Regions from separate parts of the Homo sapiens genome. Here region 2 is linked to region 1. The links come from fine-mapping of genetic effects on gene expression. A gene starts in region 1. The other region holds a variant in brackets. All regions are shown on one strand. Distances are between the middles of the regions.

What was found. PIP is the estimated chance that this variant, and not a neighbour inherited with it, causes the effect.
Region 2: its variant is the best candidate, but not a certain one, in a credible set for the expression of COA6-AS1 in cerebellar hemisphere (GTEx, PIP 0.60).

The regions. Positions count from the first base shown.
Region 1 is chr1:234,372,051-234,374,965 of GRCh38, forward strand. COA6-AS1 (COA6 antisense RNA 1) reads right to left here and starts at 1,543. Exons shown (of 2, transcript NR_125961.1): 1 at 1,373-1,543; 2 at 757-1,160. It overlaps COA6 (cytochrome c oxidase assembly factor 6), which reads left to right and starts at 1,406. Exons shown (of 3, transcript NM_001206641.3): 1 at 1,406-1,628; 2 at 2,180-2,339. The coding sequence starts at 1,417. RefSeq lists enhancers at 594-1,418, 1,240-1,789.
Region 2 is chr1:234,422,374-234,425,288 of GRCh38, forward strand. The region is part of intron 20 of TARBP1 (tRNA guanosine 2 -O-methyltransferase TARBP1); the gene reads right to left. Among named protein-coding and RNA genes, the nearest start is that of COA6-AS1, 50 kb to the left of the region's middle. The variant C/T (reference allele first, on the strand shown) is at 1,301.

The DNA.
Region 1 (2,915 bases):
AAAATGACAATTATTTCAATTTTCAAAATTTCTTGAGTTGCTTTATAACTAAGTATGTGGTTGACTGTGGTGATGTGTCTGCTTTCAAAAAACTGTACATTCTGATTTTGGTCGTGTTGTTCTGTACATATTAATTGCGTCATTTTTACATCATGTTATTCACGTTTCCTATATCCTTAACTTTTCTCTTGCTAGTCTTAACGATTAGTGAGAAAGTCCTGTTAAAATTACCCAATATGACCAGGCATTTTTTTTCTTTGTAATTCTGTCACTTCACTTTGTTTCATATGTATTTTTCATTAGGTACTTATAAATTTTAAATTTAAAACACATTTCCTTTTTAGACTCAGAAGTCATCTAAGACTCTTTCCTTTCATTCCTTTTATATCCCATCAGTCATATTTAAAAGATATCTATATGTAAACTGACGTCAATAGACATGATGTAAAAGAAGGGGGTGGCTCTGGTAAAGCTAAAGTAACTCCACTATGAGAGTGCATTAACTATGGGGGAAATACTTTCTATATTGCAGAACACATATTTGGTGGTACGTAGCCTCACATCGCCACCCGGAAAAGTCTGCATATATTGAATTTGGAATGGATCAAACTGCACTGAGTGCAAAATTGTAAATTGCATCTTATATAAATGTTTTAGAACTAGATGATGGAGCAGATGGGATCTATTAAGAGAACGGGGTGCCAGATGACTGACCATAAACATGCTTTTTAATAAAGACTCTGCTGAGAGATTAACTCATATATTTTCTAAAATTTTTATTTCTTGTTCATTTTGTTTCTAAGATATTCACTCACATATTAAAAATAACAACGTCTCAAAACATTTGAAGCAACTCTCTTCATCCCTTTTAAAAATACCTTGCTGTTTCGGGGGTTAAAAAAAGCCACAAGGGAGATTAAAACAATACAAATATTTATTTTCCCAACTCCCCTGCCATGGGTTCTGGGACGTCACCGCCTCTTTCTGGGGCCCGTTTCATCCTTTTCTTTTAATCCAAGAAGCGATGGTGTTGTGCGCCTGTAGTCCCAGCTACCTGGGAGGCAGGCTGAGGTGGGAGGATCTTTTGGGTCCAGGATTTTGAGGCTGCAGTAAGCCGTGTTCTCACCACTGCACTCGAGACTGGGCGGAAGAGCGAGACACTGTATCAAAAACAAAACAAAACAAAACGAGAAGGCATCGCGGCTCTGTAACACTCCGTCCAGCTCTCGCACTCTCAGATGCAAACTTCCACACAAACTCCTCGGCTCGCCTTGTCCCGCGGGACTAGCATATCAAGCCTTCCGGGACACACCGTGCGATGATATATACGTATATACCCCTCTTGCCCTTGAAGGCCGGAAGTCGGTCTTACAGATAAAAGCGAAACAGGAAGTCCCGCCCCTCTATGGAAAGTAAATGGTAGCTCGGAAGGGTCAAAAGAGTCCGCGGTTTCGCCGCGTGAGTTGCTTTTTGCGGCTGGGGAGGTCTACGCTTCTAGAGCTTGAGCCAGCGGGGCGACCCTGCAGTGGCAGGACTCGGCACCGCGCCCTCCACCGCCGGTTGGTGGCCTGCGTGACAGTTTCCTCCCGTCGACATCGAAAGGAAGCCGGACGTGGGCGGGCAGAGAGGTCGGCTTGCTGATGGGTCCGGGTGGGGCGCGCGTGGACTATGGGCCCGGGAGGTCCCTTACTGTCCCCGAGCCGCGGGTTCCTCTTGTGCAAAACGGGGTGGCACTCCAATCGCCTGCTTGGTGATTGTGGCCCCCACACACCTGTTTCTACAGCGCTTAGGTTCGAACAGTAACCCTGTAAACTAGGCACTGCTGTCCCCGCTTTACTGGTGGGAAACGGGCTCGGAGAGAATAAATGAGCTGCCCTAAGCGACTGGGACAGAACCACAGTTCTCAGCCGGGCTTTCTGAGCCCACGCTGCCGCCCCAGCAGGGATCAAATCACACAGTGTGAGATAAGCCTCAAGAGCGGGTGGCCTTATGCTGCCACTGAGAACTGATTGGGTTCAGTTGCCTCATCAAAATCCCTAAGCATGGTTTTGTTTTGTTTTTGTTTTTTTTTTTTTTTTTAGTTTTAAAGGAAGAGGAGATTGACGGTTTTCCTCTTTCCTTATCTTCTCTTCAGATTACAAAGTTCATTGTTAATCTCAAATATTATTTTGGCCAACAGCTTCATCGCAGTAGGAATGGCAGCCCCATCTATGAAGGAAAGACAGGTCTGCTGGGGGGCCCGGGATGAGTACTGGAAGTGTTTAGATGAGAACTTAGAGGATGCTTCTCAATGCAAGAAGTTAAGAAGCTCTTTCGAATCAAGTTGTCCCCAACAGTGGGTAAGTCACACTTTGATGTGTTTCTCTTCCCTGTTAAGATACATCGAGCTTATACTGTGAGTGGTAGGCTGACATGAAGCGCTCTCTGAGGCATGTCAATTAACAGTTTCTTTGAGGCGCAGAGAAAACCTTGCCTGGTAATTCAGCCTTATTTGACGCACTTACATCAGCTAGATCTTTGGAGAATGTCAACTGACACATTAAAGAGCATCGAAAAACACAACAAACATATGAACAGTAACCAAAAAATTCCAGTTCATTTCACTGGTAGACTTTTCCAGGATCTTCTGAAGGGGTAGTATTTAATCTTGGGCAGGAGTTGGCAAAATTATTGACCTAGAGCTACTATCAGAAATAAAGCATTCCCAGTTGCTCACCCAAAAATCCTGTAAGTCATCATATACCCAAAATATAAAGAAAGGAGTTTGGTAAGCAGAAGAAAGAAAAGGTTCATATGGTGGATTCTGTCTCCCTGACAGGCATTCAAGCGCTGTATCCCCTGTCCTTAGTATAAGGGGGGATTGGAAAGAGGACTATTACTGAGGTTAGTAAGTGGCCATGTGTGCTAAGTGCTTG
Region 2 (2,915 bases), 50 kb after region 1:
ATTCCACACAATGGAGTACTATTTGGCCATAAAAAAGAATGAGATCCTGTCATCTGCAACAACATGGATGGAACTGGAGGTCATTATGTTCAGTGAAATAAGCCAGGCACAAAAAGACAAACTTCTCATGTTTTCACTTATTTGTGGGAGCTAAAAAATAAAACAATTGAACTCATGGAGATAGAAAATAGAATGATGGTTGCCACAGAGGCTGGGAGGGGTAGTGGTGGTAGGGGGAGGGTGTGGGGATGGCTAATGAGTATAAAAATATACTTAGAATGAATAAGATCTAGTATTTCATAGTATAACAAGGTGGCTACAGTCTACAGTAAGTTATTGTACATTTTAAAATAACTAACAGTATAACTGGATTGTTTGTAACATAAAGCATAAATGCTTGAGGTGACAGATATCTCATTTACCTGATGTAATTATTACACATTGTATGCCTATATCAAAATATCTCATACACCCCATAAATATATACACCTACTATAGACCCACAAAAATTAAACATTTAAAAATATGTATTCCAGCTGTATCTGGGCCTTCATTATTGCTAGACCAATAGTTCTTAAACTGTATCAGCTCCAGAATCACAAGGGCTCATTAAAACAGAGTGCTGGGCACCACCCCCAGAGCTTCTGATTCTGTAGACTGGGGGCAGGGCCTAGGAATATGCATTTCTAACAAGTTCCCAGGGATGCTGACGCTGCTGATCCAGAGACCACACTTTAAGAATTACTGCTCTAGACAAGCATTTTGCTTTTTCTAGTCCGTTTTCCAAAGCAGCTGCACTGTTCTGTATTCCCATTAGTGATGCAGGAGGGCTCCAATTTTGCTACAACCTCACCAATGCTCATTATTTTTAGTTTGTTTTCTTGATAGCCATCCCAGTGGGTACAACTGGCTAGTATTTTGCCTATGTGATTATTGCTGGCCTCTCCCTGTCACTTTTCCCTCTCTACTGCACCACTTCCTTCAACATACAAACATGCTCCAATTATCTCCCATCTTTAAAAAGCCCCTTCTTTAACTCCAGGTTCCCCTCCAGGAACGACCCCTGTTATTCCCCCTTTTCTAGGGCAAACTCCTAAGAGACTCTATACTCACTGTCTCCACTCGCTAAACTCCCATTTTCTTCTGAACTGTTTCTACTTAGATTCTCATCCCACCATGAAACGCCTTTGTCGAGGTGACCAAGACAGCTGAATCCAACAGCCGGCCTGCAACCTCCTCGTCCTCCACGCAGCACTACCTTTCCTCGCTTGGTCTCCAGACAGCATCCTCTCCAGGTGTC[C/T]TCCTTAATTCATCCAGAGCTCAGCCCAAATGTCACCTGATTAGACCCTCCTGACCCCTCTCTCTTTTTTCTGAATTTTTTTTTTTTTTTTTTTTAGAGACGTAGTCTCACTCACTGTGTTGCCCAGGCTGGTTTCTAACTACTGACCTCAAGCAATCCTCCTGCCTTGGCCTCCCAAAGTGCTAGGATTACAGGCGTGAGCCACCATGTCTAGCCCTGACCCCTTATCTAAATAGCTAAATATATATTATAACATGTATTTTTGTTCTGATAGAATACCCATACCCAGCTCCTATCACTTTAAACTCTACTCATCTTTTAGAAAACCAATAACATACTATTTCCTCTGGGACATCTTCCTTGACTCCAACACTACAGAGAGGGAATTGTTGCATAAAAAATATTTCCAAGGTTTTATATAATAAAGCTGACCTGCTACCTTCAGAAAATAAAAGTATGATGAATACTCCTGTTTTAACAGAGGGACTTCCATGAGTTCTGTAGTCATTCATACATCCACACCAAGGTCAGAAAGCAGACCAGGCACTCCGCTGACCTCGGCTTTAAATGACAGGTAACTGTATCTGTCATTTAAACATTACATGGGGAACAGAGCACCATGCTCAACTCTACCCCTTCCTATCTAACTTGTCTCCAGATTTATTAAACCTGTTCTTCAGACACTAGAGTGTTCATTTAGAAATGATTTAGCAGGCTCAAAAACAACCTAACTGGATTGTTTTTATCTGAATAAATAACGAATTTTCATCAGTCTTAGACAAACATCACACACCCAGATCTAGAAATAACAATATATTACAATGGAAGCAAATCCTGGGGTAATCTTTCACGGGCTCTCAAATCACAGCAATCAATTCCTAACATTTGATGCCATTTTCTCAGTTTTTACTTTTTCATTCCATTTCTTACAGAAAGCAATATATGAATATAGTACTCTAAACATAACTGGGGCCAAGCACAGTAGCTCACACCTCTAATCCCAGCACTTTGGGAGGCCAAGGCAAGAGGATCACTTGAGGCCAGGAGTTCGAGACCATTCTGACCAACATGGTGAAACCCTGTCTCTGCTAAAAATACAAAAATTAGGCCAGGCACAGTGGCTCATGCCTGTAATCCCAGCACTCTGGGAGGCCAAGGAGGGTGGATTACCTGAGGTCGGGAGTTCGAGACCAGCCTGACCAACATGGAGAAACCCCGTCTCTACTAAAAATACAAAATTAGCCGGGCATGGTGGCGCATGTCTGTAGTCCCAGCTACTCGGGAGGCTGAGGCAGGAGAATCACTTGAATCCAGGAGGCAGAGGTTGCAATGAGCCAAGATCGCACCTTCGCACTCCAGCCTGGACAACAAGAGCGAAACTCCGTCTCAAAAAAAAAAAAAATTCGCTGGGCATAGTGGTGGATGCCTGTAATCCCAGCTACTCGGGTGGCTGAGGCAGGAGAATCACTTAAACCTGGGAGGCGGAGGTTGCAGTGAGCCGAGATCCCAGATCATGCCATCGCACTCCAGCCTGGGCGACAGAGCAAGACTCTGTCTCAGAAGAAGAAAAAACAAACAAACAAAAAACACAACCGGGTTTGACTGGCACTGGAAA